2 linked regions of the Homo sapiens genome follow. The protein of the gene in region 1 purifies or fractionates together with the protein of each later gene. This does not show direct contact. Each region holds a gene or a part of one and is shown on either strand. Other genes may lie near its edges.

Evidence for each region.
Region 2: the proteins of KMO (region 1) and GPHN purify together in Homo sapiens (affinity purification with mass spectrometry; 2 studies listed by BioGRID and IntAct, with this or other methods). This does not show direct contact.

The regions. Positions count from the first base shown.
Region 1 is NC_000001.11:241,533,556-241,543,238, reverse strand, and holds part of KMO (kynurenine 3-monooxygenase), read right to left. Parts: intron 1-9,683. UniProt on the Homo sapiens protein: Catalyzes the hydroxylation of L-kynurenine (L-Kyn) to form 3-hydroxy-L-kynurenine (L-3OHKyn).
Region 2 is NC_000014.9:66,502,525-66,512,986, reverse strand, and holds the start of GPHN (gephyrin), read right to left. Parts: upstream 4,841-10,462; 5' UTR 4,460-4,840; coding exon 4,396-4,459; intron 1-4,395. UniProt on the Homo sapiens protein: Microtubule-associated protein involved in membrane protein-cytoskeleton interactions. It is thought to anchor the inhibitory glycine receptor (GLYR) to subsynaptic microtubules.

The sequences.
Region 1 (9,683 bases):
ACTTGGCATAATGCTTCTAATGGGTGGGGGACGAGTACAGAGTTGATGAAGTCACTGGCACTCTGTCACTTCTTGTGTTGAGTAGTAGATTCATGGCCGCTTATTGTTATTATTATTAATAAACAAACAAACAAGGAAGTAAAAGTGTTTTCTCCAAGACCAGTCATAATACTGTGTAAGGAAATAGATCTCGTATAAATATGACCGCAATTCTGTGTAACGGAGGTTCAAATAAATTTAAAGAAAAAATACAATAGTAGGTGTTACGTCGGTTCAGCCAGAAGGGGTAGTAATGGGCGTGGCTAACAATATAGCTTTCAGACTGTAATTTTCTTTCCCCTCTCACTTTCTGTAAAAAGTGCTTAATTGGGAATAACTGCCAGTGCCATCTTGAGTTGTTAAGCTGGCAGGAAGGACTAAGACAGAAATATATAAGTGGAAAGAAAATGTGGTGTGTAAAGCATGCTAAGCGCACCACACACTCTTGGTTAAGGCACAGCTGGGTTCCTGAGCATAAATAGTGAAGGAGGACAGCACAGGAGAGAAGAAATTGGGCAGGGTTAGACAGCTGGGAGAAACAAAACTATTTTTTGATTCTGGTTCTGAGGGTAAAGCCTTAATAGAGACAGGACTGTTCCCAGTAAGGACATGAACAATTATGAAAAGTTTCTGTATTTGTTTCGAAGCACCAAACGTTCACGATAGTGAGATGTTTGCTCACAAAATAATTTTGCAAATTAAACATTTTTATGAATAACCAGTCTAACCTGTTTGTGTGTACAAGACTTTGAGGACATTCCTTGGTTACATAATTATGGATTTACCCAATGTATCATTATCTCGCTTCTCCACTTTCTTCTGTCTCGTCATACTTCCTTATTTACAGGTCATGTGCTGTATAGGGATGCCTAACCTACCACTTAAAAATATTATTTGAATATTTCCTTTCTATAAATGTTGAGGTATGCTTCTCCAGTCTTCCGTTGCTGAGCTTTTCTGTCAGTTCCCATGTGACCCCTCTAACAGCAATTGTTCAAGTAGCCAATGATCATGAGAAAACTGTAAACCATTTAAATTTATAAATGTTGACCCTTGAATCTTACATTGAACTGATAAGCAACAAAAAAATAAAAAGAAAGAAGGAAAGGGAAAAACTGTGATCCTATTAGGAAGAGGAAACAGGATTATAAAAATTCCGTACATTTTATGTCTTTTGATATAATATATTTGAAATTAATCTGATAGTGCAATATTAAACATTTGTCAACTACTTTTGACTTAATGAAGCGTATAACACCTTCCCTAATCCTTAAGAATCATGAATGTTTCTGAGTTTTCTGTCTATCTAACTTTTAAAAAGCTTGTTAATAGTGTTGAAATCCATATTTGGTCATGAAACTATAGTTTGACGTCTCAAGATTTTGATCTTTGGGTATATCAATGCAATGAGAAGAATCAGACTGTTAACTCTACTTACAATGCAATAAGCACATCAGTGTCTTCATACTTTGTTAGTAAATATTACATCTTCCAGAATTGCATATGTTATGCCAAATATTGTTTTATTATTTAATCCTTACCCTGAGTTCTCTAATCTGTGTCATCTGGAATTGATCTCTAAAGCCAAGCAGTGGTCTTGATTTTCCCTCTTATGAGAAGGTGAATGATGCACATTCCTGAGTGCTCTTAAGAAAATTTATGACTTTTACTCTAGTCTTGATCTTCGTCCTGAACTCCATCTGTGACTACTGAACCTGTCTATAGGCATCTCCCTCTCAACATAGCTAAAAGTTGACTTATTCCCATTCCTCAGCCCTCTCATTCTCCTTCTTCTGTATTCTGTATTCCATAAACTTTCTTCCTCCTTATATATTTCATATCTTAGAGAATAGCAATTGCATTCACTAATTCACCCAACCAGGGTAGCTCGGTGAATATTTAACACCCCTCTCTACCTACCAGTATACATGAAGCTAGGCAATACGTCCTATTGATTGTTCCTCTTCAGTCTCTCTCACAGCAGATCTTCTGCTACCCACAGCTCTGTCCTTACATGGGGCCCTCATTAGCTTTTACCAGGCTACTGCAACCGTTTTCTAATAACCCTCTTTCCCCAGTCTGTATGCATTCAATCTGTACTCTGCACTAGAACTAGTCATCTTCTTTTTATTTTCTTTTTAGACAGGGTCTTGTTCTGTCACCCAGGCAGGCATGCAAGGCTGAGATCATAGTTCACTGCAACCTTGAACTCCTGGGTTCAAGTGATCTCCTGCCTTGGCCTCCCAAGTAGCTGTGATTACAGGTGTGCTGCTATGCCTGGCTAATTTTTTTAATTTTTGTAGAGACAGGATCTTGCTATGTTGCCAAGGCTGGTCTCAAACCCCTGGGTTCATGTGATCCTTCTGCCTCGGCCCCCCAAACAGCTGAGATTATAGGCATGAACCATCATGCCCAATCACTAATTATCTTCTAAATAAGATGTTGAATGATTATTTTTGTCTTACAGTTGTTTATTAGCTCCTTATCTTTTCAGGAAAAAATTCCAAATTTTCAATATGACATAATGGATTCTTACATGTGATCCCAACCTCTTTCTCCAGTTCATTATGCACTATTCTCATGCACTATCTCATGCACTATTCTCTTGCACCATCTGTAATAGGCATACTAAATTTACTATATGTTTTCTGAATATGCCATGCACTTTTATTCTTCCATGCCTTTGAATACTATCCTTCCCTGCCTTATATTCAGTTTTTGGAAAATGCCTACCTTTCCTTTAAGACTCATATCCTCAGTGTAGTTTTTCCTGATACCTCTACTCCTCCAAAAGACTTGTTTGCCTTTTCTTCTGTAATTATATATATATATGTATATAGATGTGTTTTAATGTCTCAAGTACATTGAATTATTTATTTATAGTCTTGTCTGACTTCCACCAGGCAGTAAATTCCCAGAGAGGAATAATATTTGCATGGCTTGTATTTTGTCTTTTTATCTCTGATATAAACCACAAATTCTAATGAATTAGAAAATACAGGTAAATGTGAAGAAAAAAATAATTCCTCACAATTTTACCACCAATGGCAACCAATATTAACATTTTCTATGTATATAAAATACATGATATTTCTTTTCAAAATGGTAACAGGTTGTATATTTTCTTTCATAATTTCTTTCAAAAAATGAAAAGTGTACTCTAAATACATTTCCACGTCAAAAGATGTCTGAAGTAAAAGCATTTAATACTTGCATTACATTTGATTGTAGGCAGTGTGCTTATATTTGGATATTCAAGTTATTTTAATTCTTTAGCATTATAGACAATTGTATGACGCATACACGTTTCTTTTGATAAAATCTCACTAATGAAATGGCCCACCAAAGGGCAATTTTGAATAAAAGGGATTGAAACACTGGCCAATTCCGAGCTCCACACCCTCCTTCTACCTGCCCCGTTGGCTCCTGGGCCTTATTACTAGTGGGGGAATGGAGTAAGGATAACAGGGGAATGAGAAAACAAAGAGGGAAAGAAGAGAGTCTGAAGTGAGCTGCGGAGAGAATATTGATGGTCTAGAGCGTAAGAGGAGCCTGCTCAATCTTCCTTTGTCTTGCTTTTGGAATAACTGCAAAGCACACGAAAGAGATTCAGATTGACTGGGGCAATATCATTTCAGAAGGTTTTGTTGGGAGTTTTGAATACACTCCAGATTTGATGTTTTTGAGAGCCTACATTAGATTCTATTTGCTTTTAATTTCTCATTGGCTGAAGGACAGTTGTTACTCTGAATGCAATGCCATGCTTAGGCCAACTTCAAGGGTGAAGTAGCTATTGCTGCTTTCTGGAATTTTTTTGAGACGGAGTCTCACTCCGTTGCCCAGACTGGAATGCAGTGGCACGATCTCAGCTCACTGAAACCTTTGCCTCCCAGGTTCAAGCAATTCTCCTGCCTCAGCCTCCCGAATAACTGGGACTACAGGCACACACTGCCATGCCTGGCTAATTTTTTTGTGTTTCAGTAGAGATGGGGTTTCACTGTGTTACCCAGACTGGTCTCGAACTCTTGAGCTCAGGCAATCCACCCACCTCGGACTCCCAAAGTGCTAGGATTACAGGCCTGAGCCACCGTGCCCAGCCAAATCCCCACTATTTTTAAGACTACAGATGTGTATATTTTCAAGTTGTTTTCCAGGAAAAAAATACCGGCTTAGATTACCATCAACAGTGTATGAGGGTGCTCTTTTTCTTTGAGTAGACAGATAGAGGACTAGACGAATGCATGAGTGAATATGGACAGAAGGGAAATAATCTGAGAGTATTTGGGAGGAGGATGCGCCAAATGAGAAGGAATGAAAGACACACTCTTTGTAGGCACTTAACAAAGTCTGGAGCTGTCTAAAGTTGTTGGTTCCATTCCAGATACTTCCCACCAGATAGCAAATGAAGGAATCTCTGAGGGATGAATTCCCTGAGGTGAGAGTGGGATTTATGAGGCACAGCCACAAAGAAATCCATTCCACCTCTGTTTTTAGAAGGTGCTAGATATGGGCCACTAATGAGAGTTTTTCATATTTAAGAAGGCTCAGAGCCTATGAAATAGAAAACTGAAACCCAGGTCTAACATGGTGAGGCCCACCAAACAGCCTGCCTTGCTTGCTTTTTATTGCTTACTTCTAGTTGATCTCAAAGCCCATATAGCTAAAAGTCATGTAGCCAAACAATATACATCTAATCTGTCACTAGCTTCCTTATAGACAACGTCTCTGGCATGTATGTCACTATGGTAATAGTTGCTTAAAGTTTTTGTTTTTGTTTTTGTTTTCAGGAACTAGGTGTTCTTACCCAAGTTAAACTACTTGAAAGAGACCACCAACCCTCTTTCTACCTTGCCCATTGACTCCTGGGCCTTATTACTATGGAGTAAGGATAATAGGAGAATGAGAAAGCAGATAGAAGAAGGAAAGAAGAGAGTTGCAGGCCCTTCAACTGGGCCTGCACAAATGCCCAAGAAGTGACTTTCTGATACCAGAAGGCCAAAAACCTCACCTTCACAGCATGCTAATGCCACCATTTTCTGAACATGTGTCCTATGAAGAGTCATGAACCTTGATTATGCATGCTCAGACCACCTATTCATTTTTCCCCACTGCTAATCACCTTCCCCACACCTTAGACCACCCTGCTTCTTTACCCCATAAATATCTCTAAGCCCTATCTTTGGAGAGGTGGATTTGAAAGCTGTTCTTCCATCTCCTTGCTGGGCTGTCCTGTGAATAAAATCTTCTCTTTACTGCAAAACTTGTTGATATGGTTTGGTTGTGTCCCCACCCAAATCTCATCTTGAATTGTAGCTTCCATAATCCTCATGTGTTGTGGGAGGGACCCAGCGGTAGGTAATTGAATCATGGGATTGGGTCTTTCCCATGCTGTTCTCGTGATAGTGAATGAGTCTCATGAAATCTGATGATTTTATAAAGGAGAGTTCCCCTGCATGCCGTCTCTTGCCTGCCACCATGTAAGACATGCCTTTTGCCTTTCACCATCATCATGAGACCTCCCCAGTCACGTGGAACTGAGTCCATTAAACCTCTTTTTCTTTATAAATTGCCCAGTCTCAGGTAGGTCTTTATCAGCAACATGAAAACGGATTAATACACTTGTTATCTCAGTAACTGACTTACTGCATGCTGGGCAGAACAAGCCTAGTTTGGTATCAAAACAAGAGTAGAGCAAATAGAGCTTAGTTTATTTTCACATTGATAAAATAATAACAATAAAGGTTAACAGTAATTATGTCTTTTTCATGGTATAGCTCATTAATATTTGCAAAAAATATAAAGTATGCACTTGAATCAAATTCTGTGTAGACCTCAACCCAGGATTATAAGCCATTTGATGGTTCATATGCACTGAGGACGTTTACTTCAGGGAAAGTGAAAATTCTGGGTGACATTTGATTTCTTTTTTTAGAAAGGAGTAGGTTGAGAACAAAGCTAGAGATCTGTGAGCGAGAAAGTGTGAAAAAGAAGCAGTAGAATTTTAGTGTTAAAAGACTAGCAATCTAGTTTTAGTCCAAGAGGAAGAAACTGAGACCCATAGGGTAAGATTTCCTGAGTGTCCAGCTGGTTGCAAACTCTGCTATTCCCAGTCCCCTCAATGAATAATGTTTTTTCCATCCCATGAAGCTGAGTGAAGAGTAAGTGGTGAGGTGGAAAAATCCTAAGAAGAACAGAACAGAAACACCATTTGGGGACAGTTTGGCATCAAGACCATTTTGAGCCTATAAATCCATGACAGGATTTAACATCTATAGCTGTGAGACATAAACTCTCATAGAGTCAAGGTCAAGTTGCCTCAAAAGCAATTTCATCAGCAGAGGCCACTGACTTGACTTGAATTCCAGGGGGCAGGGCACAATTATCAACAATAAGTCAAAATACGTACAAATCTCCTCACCCTCTAAATACTACTAAATGGAGAACTTTCCTGGGTCAAACATAGGGAGAGTAGATCACAAAGCTCTCTACAGTGGGGTTTCTTTTTTGCAGAAAGGAACAGAAGAAATATTTGAATGATATCCTAAAATACATCTCCAAAATACATGCTAGAATAGTGGACATACATTGCAACAGCAGGAGTCAGCTGAGACTGGAATGCTTAATAGCCCTCTTACCAAGGCTCTTGGCTTCAGTCAAAAAATGGTGTCTTGAGTAGCTTTAGCTGTCACTGAAATGGTGCCTTTTTGCTCTGATCACTTTCGTCATACCTGTAAACACTGAAAACAGTTATCAAAAGCAGTATTTTCTGAGTCTTAAGGACTGAATTCAGATGTGGATTAAGGACACTTGTTTAGCTTAGATGGCCTTTGTTTACTTCTCTGGCTTGTCTACTTCTCTCTCACTTCATAAAGAAAAGAAAACATATCACTCTAACATGAAGTAAGGCAGTTTGTATGGCAGTTTTTTTGTAATGCAGGTTTTTTTTGAAATGATGTGCTAGAATTGAAAAGCTACACTGTAGAACTCCTTCCAGCATGCAAAATTGAGATTATTTTCCAAATCCTTTTTTAAGTTACTCATTGAAAGGACTACATTCCTCATGACATAATTGTGTTAAAAAAAAAACTCTTTAAAAATTTCCCATAACTTCTAAAGGAGTGATTCTCCACTTTGTTCTGAAATCAAACTCATGCACAGAAAATATTTTAGTGTGGCTCACATTATAAGGCACTGGGAAACCTTTATAAAGGTAGCAGGAGCCAAAGATAAAATAATCTTTAGATCTACGAAGTAAAAAGCTTCTATGGGGAATAAACTATGCATAACAAAATTTTAATAGAAGGCAGCATTTGATAATGACAAACAAAGCCCTGTGGGCATTTAAAGAGAGGAGAAGCCTTCACAGGTTGATTGTCCTGCAGTTACCTTCTGGAACTAGCAGGAGGTAATCCCATTGGCTGGAGAAGGGATGGGGGAGTTGTAATTCACACAAGGAGGAAAATATCAGTCAATACAGGGGTCTTTCTAAATATTTAGGTCAATGTTCTTGAAATGCTATTTTAACATCTTTTCCCACTTGTTTTTCAATATTTAAACTTTACCTGGTTTATGATTATGGTTTAGTTTCTTTTACCTTTTGTTTCTCATTAGGAGTTTTTTTACTGGTTTGTTGATCTCTTTGACTGAACATGTCTTCAAAGAAAGGAAATCAACTGGTTTAACCCAATATCAGATGATCACTACATCAGAGCAAGAATAACTTCTCAGGGTGACTTTTCATTAGGCAAGTTTACTAGACATGGTAAGCTACCACTGATAAGAATTGAGGGAAGTTCACTATATTTTTTGGATGTCTAAGTAAAGGTTCTCAACTCTCATTTTTTTTTCTAGGGGCCAGGGGAGAGCCTTTAATGTGTTAGACAGTATAAGGTACTGGGATATGGTTTATGGAAAGGAGGAGGTAGGAAGGGAGGGTGGAAAAAAAAACAGAAGAAGATGGGCAAAAATGTAATCTTGTCCTCTATGTAAAGACATTAACCTTCTTGAATTGCTCTATTTAGTCAATACTTTTAAAAATAATTTTCTCAATATTCAAACATGCATCTGTTATTATTTTTTCACCTTTATATCATTAAGTTTTCTCATTCCTCTCATTTATTCATCCACCCAATACATAATGTTAGGCATAATTACAGCCTCTGGAATACATTGGTTAATAAGAGTTTATATCCTAGTTGGAGTAGATATCTAAGAAACAGGTTAAAAAAAAAAACCCAAAGTGTGTAATTTCCGATACTGGTAGATAAGATTAACAAATAAAAAGGGAAAGGGGTGAAGCCAGAAAGGCAGATAGGCTTAGTTCAGACAAGACCTTTGGTAAAGAGTTTGGGTTTTATTTTATTTGTAATGGGAGATCATTGGAAGATTTTAAGCAGGGGATGATAATGATCAGACTCATGTTTTAGAAGGGTGTTTCTGGCTGTGGTGTGTAGTATGGACTATAAGGGAAAAGGAGTTAAAGCTGGGAGACTAATTTGGAGCTTGTTGCAGGAATAAGGATGGCGGATGATAATGGCTTGGGCCAGGATGGTTGTAATGGCTAGAATTTAAATGTATTTTGGATATAGAGCCTCAAGGCTTACTGATGGAGTGAAAGAAGAATAAGCGTTTGCACAAAATGACAATAGGAATCAAACATGATGCGTAAGCATGGACTTGAACAATAGGATGGATAGAATTCTTTTGCAGAGGAATTTTAGTTGCTCCCTAATACGCAAGTAGTAATTTTTGTCTCCTATTTTCCAGCATATGTATGACGTGGTTACATGATGACAATCTCATGTTATTCAGGGAGAAATCCATGGATGACACCCACATTTTTATGCCCCCCAAAACCATATATACAATCACATATTTGTTATCTCTCCCTTGGATTTCTAAGAGACAATTTTTAAAATGAGACATCACTGCTGCCACCTTAGTCCAAGTCTTGAGCTAACGTAACAGCCTCCTAACTGGTCTATCTTGTCATCTTAAAATGTTCCTAGTCATTCTCCACATAATGGTCCAAGGGACCTTTTAAAATCACAACTTAATTTCCTGCCTAAAATCCTCCAATAGTTTCCCATTGTAATTTGAACAAAATCTGATCTTCTTGCCTGGACCTCTAAGATCCTACAAGATCTGGTCTGTCAGCTTTTCTGGCCTCATCAGCTACTCTTCTCTGGCCTCAGGCAGTTCCTGCCTTTCTTTCTGCTCCTTGAACTTGGGCAGCTCATTATTGCCTGAGGGTTTCTCTTCCTGCTGTTCCCTCTGCCTGAAATGCTCTTTCTCAAGATCTTCACGTAGTTAGTTCTATCTGATCATTCAGGTCTCTGGTCACATGTCCCTTCAGCAGAGCAGCTGTCCCTGACCACATTCTAAACAGGTACTCCCAAAGATACTCTCTACAGCACTACCCTGTTTTCGTTTCTTTCATAGTGCTTCTCTTTAACTGAAATTGTCTTATTTGTTTTCTTCTTCCTTGTCTTTTTCTTCTCTGGAATTCTCACCCTCGCATCCCTACTACCTAAAACAATATTGGTACATAGTAATCAGATTTTGTTGAACACATGAATTCTCATTTTGTGCAACATTTTGATAGGACAGATTGGACACAAGCCTAGTATGAAGCAGTGACGACA
Region 2 (10,462 bases), on another chromosome or scaffold:
ACAGCTAAGTTAGGCAGAACATACAGTTCCACTTAGTAGGATTTAATAGTAATTTGCCTACTTAATGACATCTATTCTCAAAACAGATATAATATGTATATATCCTTATCAATAAATGGGCTTTTCAGAAAATAATATTGACACATAATATACCAGAACAGGTTTCAAGAATGTAAAAAAGTAAATGCTTAAACAATTGCAGAGTTATGACAGTAGCATCTGCTTGGCTCAAGCTTGTTTTTTTAATACTTTGAATGACTTCATTTATGAATAACTGAAATACTCCCTACCTGTTACTGTAATATTTTGATGTTCTCATTTACAATTAGTCTTTTAACTAATCTCTAGTACCTAGTCTTATATTTGTTCCAGTATCTCTTACTGATTTCAAATCAACAGGTTAGTGCAATTAAAATGTATATTACTACAGCAAAAATATGATTTTTAAAAATGCCCTTTCCCAAAAATTTGTACCTTTTTCTCATTCATGCCCCTATTAGTGACAATTTAGGTAATGGATTATCATCTTCAGCTAAGTACCTTGGTATCAAACATTAGCTGTAGCGAACTAATACGATATTCAGTAGCCAATGGAATAATCTATATGATTCTACATTCTATACATACATGTAGTCATTATTTTCCTAGTAATGTTTCTGTAGAGCTTTTACAGGTAAAACTAGTATGCTGCTTTGATAAACAGCTTCTTTCAAAATAGAAAAAAGTATGTGAAGAGTGACATATTCCAGATATAGTGAGCCTGCTATGTAACTGGTAAGATTGACTTCAAGTATAATCACTACTAAAGCTGTTAGAAAAAAATTCTACATCTGCACCACATCCTGTTTCTAGTTTTCAAGTAGCAGATACTTGTTTATTTGCTTCATGTTACTCATTACCATATTACCTCTAGTCTCTTCTATAAATAGTAATACAAGTAGACAACTAATTAGACACAGAAATATTTCAAACTAGACCTTAGGTCACCAAACACCATGTGACTTTCATTTCTGTCAAGTCAACATAAGACAGTTTCGAACAAAGTTATTGTTGTTAGAGATGGACAATAATATTCAACATAAAATGTTTCCACATACAGCCTATTTTATATACATATATGTTCTCATTTTCCTGATTTAAAAAAAAGTATAATTAGAATATCCATGTTACATTAATTATCATAATCTCATTTTCAAGTGCTTAATAATTCAAAATAATGAAGCAAAAAAATGCTTCTGCTAAATATTTCCCTTTCTACCATTATTCTTTCATAAACCTAATACAATTAATTTATTTAATGAGAAGTCTCAACAGACTATGTACTAAATTTGCCAAATTTACAACTGAAATGAAGATAACGAAAACATCTAATGGATGAAAAGTTTCAAAGAACAAATATCTTTCAACAGGTAATAAAAAATGTCACAACGTCAATTAAAAACTTTAGAAATGACAATATGACTTCACAAAATACTAAGTAACATATTGTAAAATGTGTGTGTGGGTAGATCACACTTTCCACTATCTTTGTAAAATAGATATAGATAAAATACTTAAAATTAGTATTACGAAGCATGCCAAGGAGATTTTCTAAAAGAGACCCTCCACCTTTTAAGAGCCACAAATAATAATTTACAAAAACCACAGTTCAACTCAACTTTCTTAAGTATGAAATCACAATACTTCAGTTCAGTAAAGAATAATTCTACATAGTAAAACTGCAAAACCTCAAGTTCTAGAATACACAAAATTGTACAGCACAGCTTCATTTTTGTAAGTTCTTTCCCCCAAATCATATGGTATATCAGGCAAGACCACAGAAATTAAGCTGTTGATAATGAAACCCACTAGTTACAGACTTGAGAAAAATCAGTTTTCTTTCCTCTCCATCATAGTAGACAATATCTGTATCAACAACTTTCAAGAAAAAGCCTGAGTTACTTCTGACTTCAAATATACATGTTATCATCAAAACCTATTTTCCTCTATTATCACTTATTCCAAATCTGTAGCTGCCTTTTCATTCCTTCAGCTACATCCTTGTTCCTGGCCCTAGACTTTTCCCCCTAGACTACTGTACCTCATTCTCATGAGACGGCTTCCCCTGACTGTCTTTAATTCCACTGTCAATGTTAATGTTACCTTCTCTCTAACATTTTACCTATGCCACCTACCCATTCCACTTCAGCTTTTCAAGGCCTTTACATTGCATTTTTATTTAGCTCAGAAGCCTCATCATCAACTATATATTTATTTATAAAGTGGCTGCTGACTTTCAACTCCCCTTAAAATTGACAGTTTCTTCTTGACCTAGTAAATGTATTAAATTCTCCCTTCAGGTAGTCACATTCTCTCCTAATCCATCTGAATACGGAATTTCTTTTGCAGTTAACCCCAAACTCATAGGTAATGTATTTAGAAAAGTTTTGCACAATAATTACATACAATGTTTCTTCATTTGTTTGCGTATCAATGTTATCCATATTAGACTGTAGGGACACCAGATAAGGGCTGCATCTTTCAAAGCAGTCTGTACAACACCTATCTGCTATGTCACTTCACAAAGGTAAGTTGATTCGTTAAATGAAACTATTATTTAATGGAAAGCTTAAGTAGAAAATGTTCATTTTAAAAATGTTTCTACGGTTTAACTTTTAAACATCTATGGCCTTTTTTATTTCCACAGACAACTGACATATTTTGGTTTCTCACTACTCTATTATTGTCAAAGAATGGCTGGAATTTAAAGTGCAAGTTGAGGGTAGATAAAAGATATACACTTTGACATCCCACCATCAGATTATTCGAAAATTGGCAATGTCAGCTCCAGGAATTCTGAAATACAACTGAATCTTCACATACCCAAACAGTTTCAGGACCAAAAGAAGAGAACAGCGCACCTTCTGATTTGGGGGTTCCCTTTTCTGCAACTGGTTTAGACTAGTTTCTCTATCCAAGGGTCTTTTAATTAGGAAAATTCAATTAATCACCATCGATATACGGAAAGAATACCAGGGAAAGGCAATCCTTTACTTAAAAGAGAAAAAAGGAGGCTTTGGATATCACCTTTTCATAAAATTCAGCAGCTAAATTAAGCTTTGCACTCAATATCTGCCGGCAGTCTCAGACATTTTTTTTCTACCTAATAATAAAAGCAAGTCTTATTCAATTTAGTCCCTTCTCGAGCACCGTCTCGACCTGTCAGAATTTGACAGTTAAAGAAAAAATTAAAAAAAGAAGTAAGGGAAACACTAGGATTCCCGTCCACACTGCTTCTTTTTCCGAAATCACATCACTGAGTCTTGGATTTCCTTCACTCCAAACTAAGCCCTCAGATTCCAAATATAGTTCTTTAACCCCCGTCTCGCCACTCAATTACACATAAACCTTGCCAATTACAGAACCACAGCAGAAACCCCTACAAATCCGCTTGCTGTTCATCTTGGAAGTCATGCCCTGCAGCAACTGCCGATCGCCGAAGTGACGGATATTAACCAAATTCAGCGCAACGGAATCAGACATGCAGAACACACACGGCTTTCGCGAGGGAGGGAAACGCGACCCGGGAAAAGTGCGCTCCTCACCAGCCTCGGGACGCTCTACCGGGGTGGGGGTTCCCAGAAAGGAGGGGGAGAGGAGCCCGAGTAGGGGAATCCTGCCCTCTCAAGTAAAAAGCTGGATCCCCGGCAGCAGGCTGCAGCCCGTCCTCGCTAAGGAAACGACGAGGCAGACAGAGGGCCTTTTGCGCGGAAAGGCAGAAGGCAGACACTTTCCGAGGTCCGGACGCAAGCCGATCCCCCATCCCCCGAGGGAGGCGAAGGGTGCCCCATGGGTGGCTGAGGGGACGCCCGGCCCGCGAGGGACAACCCGAGGAGGAGCAGTTTCATCTGATTAACACCTGAGTCTCGTCCAGGCAAGCACAGATACTGGCGTGGGGCCGCCCAGGTGGGGGGAAGGGAAGGAGAGGAAGGGGGTGGAGATGGGATTCCCCCCTCTCTCTGAAGAGCACTAGCGGAGGATGCGCCCAGGCCAGCCGAGAGCGGCATGCTTCAGACTGCGGAGCCGGGATCCCGCCGCCTGCACCGACAGCGCGGAGCCCCGCAGCGCCCTCCGCACCGGCCCCTCGGTCCCCGGGGGCCCAGGACTTTGCTTCCGAAGGCGCTGGGGCCTAACATCCCACGGGGTCGACCCCGGCTCCTGGGGCCTGGGGGAGGGGACCCGCGGGAACACCCCCAATCTCCGGCGGTTCTCAGCGGTTGTAAAATGCACCCCCGCGGTTCCCTTCTTCAGCCTTCCCTCCTCCCGAGGCCGCAGAGAAGGGCCACCACAGGCGAAAAGCCTAAGGCAATGCAGGGACAGCAGCCTCATAGGTCCCAGACCTCCTCCCCCGGTTACCTGTAAGGACTCCGACACGGATTTGATGGTCGTGGTTAGTAAGGATCATTCCCTCGGTCGCCATGTTTCCCAGCGCAGTCACCGCACTGACAGGAGCCGGGAGAAACCGGAGCCCGGAGCGCGCGGGCCGGGAGCGCGCTCGCCGAGGAGAGCGCGACAGCTAGGGAGCCAGAGAAGCGCGAGGAGAGCGGGGAAGGAGGGGGAGGCCACAGAGTGCACGGTGGCCTGCGTGGGGGAGAGGCCGCGCCGGGAGTGCGCGGGTCCGCGGGAGGGGAAGGAGTCAGGGCGCGCGGCCCCAAGTCCGGCAAGAAGGAGGCAAGCTTGGGGGGCGCGGTGGCCGCACGGGGAGAGCGCGCGGAGGCGGCAGAACGAGGCCGGAGAGTGTCGGAACGCTCTGCGGAGCGCGAGACCCAAGGCAGCTAGATGGCAGGACTGAGAGGAAAGGATAGCACACGCTCTGGAGGTTGCGGGGGCGGACTCGGGGACAAGGGCGGAGCTACACCCCTAGGCGTGGAACTCGTGGAGAGTGAGGGGAGGAGTGAGAGCTCGGGTGCTGAGTATTGGGAGCGGGAAGGAGCCGGCCCAGCCTGAGTAGGACCGCGGATCGCTCCTGGGCGCGCGAGTAGCACCGGATTGGCTGAGTGAACGCGGAGCGTGTGCGCGCGAGGCACGAACGCAACCTCGGCCGGGCCCCAGACAGAAGCAATCCCCTGCCGAGCCTGACACCTCGTTGGTTGTCCGCGCCTTAGGCTGGCTCTCGCCGGCGGGCCGGCTTTCTACGCGGGGGCAGCGAGGCTGGCTCAGCACCCCGGGCCTCCTCTTGCAACCCTCGGGAATGGCCGGCCGCCCCACTGAAAGCGCTGGGGAACCGAGAGGTGTCTTAGAAAGCTGCATGAGTGGCAGAACGGTGGCTACTATGACAGAGAGGCCGCCGTGGGCGAAGAGGGAGGTATCCTGTCCTGCCTCGTGCTAGCCGCTGGCTTCCTCAGTGGGCTCTCCCTGAAGGAGGATTTCCGCTTCACCTATGCTTTAGGATTCCATCTCCAGTCAGTGCCTGCAAGACGATCCTCACGTGCGAAACTGAGGAGTCTGAGGCAGGGCAGCTGGAGTGGAGATACCTGGCTTCTCTTCCTCCTGCTGTCCCACGGTTTTGTGGCCTTAAGCCTCTTCGCCATGAGCGCTGCTTTTAGATGAAAAGCATCAATCTCCTTAGCGAACGAGAACGTGTTCCACCTGAACCACAGTCCATTGCCGCGGCGATTTTCATTTCAGTATTCGTGGGATGTGAGATTACCATGAAAGTAGCTTTTGTTGCCATTTATTTCCATGTGCCTTTCATGAAACGTGTTATTAATCACCTGTGGCTATTCTACGTTAGTTTCTTACTATCGTTCTGGACCTTTCAACTTCTGAATTTTAAAAAGTTATATGCGTGTGTGTGTGTGTACACACACTCATATGTATATGTTTTCTCTTCTTAGCTGTAGTAACCTGGAGGCATAAAAGTGAAAAGCAAAGTATTAAAAGATGTATATCAGTGTTTATACACAAATTTCAAAGTCACTTTGATAGGTTTTTTTTTGGTTTTGGTTTTGGTTTTTTTTGATCCGGAGTCTCGCTCTGTCGCCAGGCTCCAGTGCAGTGGCGCGATCTCGGCTCACTTGCAACCTCTGCCTCCCAGGTTCAAGCGATTCTCCTGCGTCAGCCTCCCGAGTAGCTGGAACTACAGGCGCGTGCCACGACACCCAGCTAATTTTTGTATTATTAGTAGAGACGGGGTTTCACCATGTTGGCCAGGATAGTCTCGATCAAGATCTTGACCTCGTGACCCGCCCGCCTTGGCCTCCCAAAGTGCTGGGATTACAGGTGTGAGCCACCGTGCCTGGCCGATTATGAGTTTTTTATTGTTCCGTTGGAACATGAAATTACCCATCCTCTGAAGATTCACGTGCTTATGTATTTCATTTTAAATAATGGGGCCTAAAAGTAGATGATGGATGGAATTGAAGTGGGTAAAATAAATTAATGGCTTTTTTGCTTTTGTTTTTGTTTTTAGTATGTGTATTGCTGGTATTTTTGACAGTAATTAAAAATTTAAGCCAGGTCATGAACTCATTCCCTATCATTGTCACCTTAGATCCTGGTGGCCAACGGGTTGTTAACTAGTTTGAAATGAGAGATAAAGATAAGAAAGTATGTCCAAGAGAATGATTTCCGTTATCTCAAACTAAACATGAAGAGCAAATAGTTGGTTATATTGTTATCTTCCTAACCTATCTCTATTCTCTGCAACACACTCTAAATGATTAGAAAATATCTTGAGCTTATCGTCTGTCTTACATCTATCTTAGACGTAAGGTCTAAACCTGCCCACTAACAGGTTGTGACCCTAAACAAATTTGGGCCTTTTCCTTCATCCTTTAAATAAGATGGTAGACTAAATAAGTACCTTTTAAGTATAGTGGTAGACTAAATAAGCACTCCTTTAATTAGAATATTCTGTAATTATTCATGGAAGAAAACTGGCACTTTATTTCACAAATCAATAATAAGAGGACAAGAGACTAACTTTCTGCATTCATAAAAGGGGTGATGGTTAAATTCATTAAAATTTAAGTGGGAAGGGTGGATATGAATTAAATTTTCTAAAGCAGCAGTCCCCAACATTTTTGGCACCAGGGATCTGTTTTGTGGAAGACAATTTTTCCATGGATGGAGATGGGGAGGGTTGATGGTTTCGGGATGAAGCTGTTCTAGAAAACTGCAGATCATAAGGTATTAGATTCTGATAAGAAGCCACAACCTAAATCCCACGCATCCGCAGTTCACAATAGGGTTCATGCTCCTATGACAATCTAATGCAGCCACTGATCTGACAGGAGGCGGAGCTCAGGCAGTAATGGTTACTGCCTGCTGTGTGGCCTGGTTCCTAATAGGCCACAGATGGGTACCTGTCCATGGCCCAGAGTTTGGGGACCCCTGTTCTAAAGTATATGGAGGTTTATTAACATTCATTATGTTTTACTGACTGTAAGTATTAAAATTCCTAAAAAATAATAATGGAACTAAATTATAATGCTTGTCTTTCAACCGTTTTTCTTAAGTGTATTCATCTTTCTCAAATTCAGCAACCTTTTACAAACCTTACAAAGGAAAAACGCAGTGACTTTACTGTCTAGAGTGAACTTTTACTGATGGTTATTGAATGAATATTATAATATGTACACACTATTACTCTTGTTACAGTGTGACATTCTTCAGAATTCATCCTGGAATCAATATTATGCCAAAGAAAATTTTCTGAAAGGTAGGAGAGAGTGCCATTTTCCAAATATTGATAAATGTCTCAGGAAACATGGGACATGGGGTGTGGTGTGGGTTGGGGTGGGAATTTGTATGTAAATAATTAGAAGTGCCCAGGGAGTTATTCTTTCCATTCTTAGGGTTTTCATCATGAAAACTACAAGAGTTGCCATTAACCATCCAAGACAACATAAAAAAAATAGGTTAACATGTGGCTTTCATTACAATTATCATGGAATGAAACTTTATATTTCAGTAGAAATGAAGTTATTATTATTATTATTATTTTTTGAGACAGTCTTGCTGTGTCAGCCAGGCTGGAATGCAGTGGCACCATCTCAGTTCACTGCAACTTCTGTCTCCTGGGCTCAAGTAATTCTCCTGCCTCAGCCTCCCGAGTAGCTGGGATTACAGGTGTGTGCCACTATGCCTTGCTAATTTTCGTATTTTTAGTAGAGATGGGATTTCACCATGTTGGCCAGCCTGGTCTTGAACTCCTGACCTCAGGTAATCCACCTGCCTCGGCCTCCCAAAGTGCTGGGATTACAGGCGTGAGCCACTGTGACCGGCCTGAAGTTAGTTTTTTCCTAGTACTGGTATATTTACACTTAGCCCACCAGTTAACTCTTAGTTTTTCTGTGGTTAATCACAATTTCTTTTTTTTCTTTTTTTTTTTTTTTTTTTTTGAGACGGAGTCTCTCTCTGTTACCCAGGCCGGACTGCCGTGGCACTATCTCGGCTCACTGCAAGCTCCGCCTTCCGGGTTCACACCATTCTCCTGCCTCAGCCTCCAGAGTAGCTGTGACTACAGGCGCCCGCCACCATGCCTGGCTAATTTTTTGTATTTTTAATAGAGACGGGGTTTCACTATGTTAGCCAAGATGGTCTCGATCTCCTGACCTTGTGATCCACCTGCCTGAACCTCCCAAAGTGCTGGGATTACAGGCATGAGCCACCGCGCCTGGCCCACAATTTCAGTATAAGCAAGGCCAAATCTCATTGGGCTTTTCTGGGTCCAGACTCTCCTCTATGTCTTTTCCTACATGTGCATACCTATGATAAAGTTTAATTATATAGTAGTCACCGTAAGAGATTGACAGAAATAACTGATAATAAAATAGTACAATTATAACAATTTACTGTAATAAAAGTTATGTTAATGTGGGCTCTGTCTCTCAAAATATCTTATTGTATTGTACTCACCTATTTTCAGACCAGAATTAGTTACAGCAATTCTAGGGGAAAAAATACAAAGCCTAATTCAGCCAATTTAAAGTTCTTCTTGACCATAATCTATCTTTCTTTGGGGAAAAAATACATTTAAAGCAACCAAAGCTTCATCCTCACCATTTTTTAAATGGTAAAATACACATTCATAAAATTTACCATTTTAGCCATTTAAAAGTGTACAATTCAGTAGCATGAAGTACACAGTAGCCCTCCCTTATCTGCAGTTTTGCTTTTCTTGGCTTCAGTTACTCTATTTCCCTGAAGCCCACGATTGGAAACCCAGATGTCTGATGACATGCTTGGTTGCAAGCAACTGATCCTAGTTGAAGCCAAAAGAAATTCATTGGCTTATGCAGCTAACAAGTCTGGACTTGTGTAGCTTCAGGGTTGGCTAGATTCAGAGTCTGAAACTATGTCATTAGGATGTCACTTTGAGCTATGCTTTCTTCTTTGTTAACTTCATTCTCACCTTGGCTCTTCCTACATTGCAAAAAGATGGCATTGGCTTCTCTAGGCTGTGTGTGTGTGTGTGTGTGTGTGTGTGTGTGTACACACACAAATATATATTCATATGTTTTTAAGAGAAACATAGTCTCTCTGTGTTGGCCAAGCTGGTCTCAAACTCCTCACCTCAAGATATCCTCCTGCTTCAGCCTCCCAAGTAACTGTGATTACAGATACGAGCCACAGCATCTGGCTCTAGGGTATAATTTAGATCAGTACCCCATTATAGTAAATATTTAGTATATTTAAAATTTTTTAATCTGGAAATTTGAATATAGGTAACCTACTGTATTAGTCTGTTTTCATGCTGCTGATAAAGAGATACCTGAGACTGGGCAATTTACAAAGGAAGGAGGTTTAGTAGAGAACTCACAGTTCTACGTGGCTGGGGATGCCTCACAATCATGGCGGAAGGCAAGGAGGAGCAAGTCACATCTTACGTGGATGGCAGCAGGCAAAGAGGGAATGAGGAAGACACAAAAGCAGAAGCCTCTGATAAAACCATCAGATCCCATGAGACTTACTCACTACCATGAGAACAGTATGAGGGAAACCACCCTCATGATTCAGCTATCTCCCCCCCGTGTTCTTGCCACAACACCTGGGAATTATGGGAGTACAATTCAAGATGAGATTTGGATGGGGACACAGAGCCAAACCATATCACCTACATAAGCAAAAGCTCCATAAAATCCTCAATTTTTACGAATGTAAAGGATCCCAAGAACCAAAACTGAGAATCATAGATTTACATCATGTGCCAATCTGCAAAGCACTTATAAGACAAATTACAAACTCCTCTTTCTCCATTATACTATAGAGGTTATACTTTCCTGAGGGCTCCAGTTTATATACCTTTAATTCTGCCTATATAGTCACATATTAATATTCAGAAGGTAGAGAAGTTCTTCCTAGGTATGTACTGACAATTTACAAATGTACGAAGTTTCCATTTATTTATGTGGCTGTGTATCTGATAAAAGAAGAAAACCAGGAACAAAAATTTTGATTTCTAAAGGAAGCACTAATT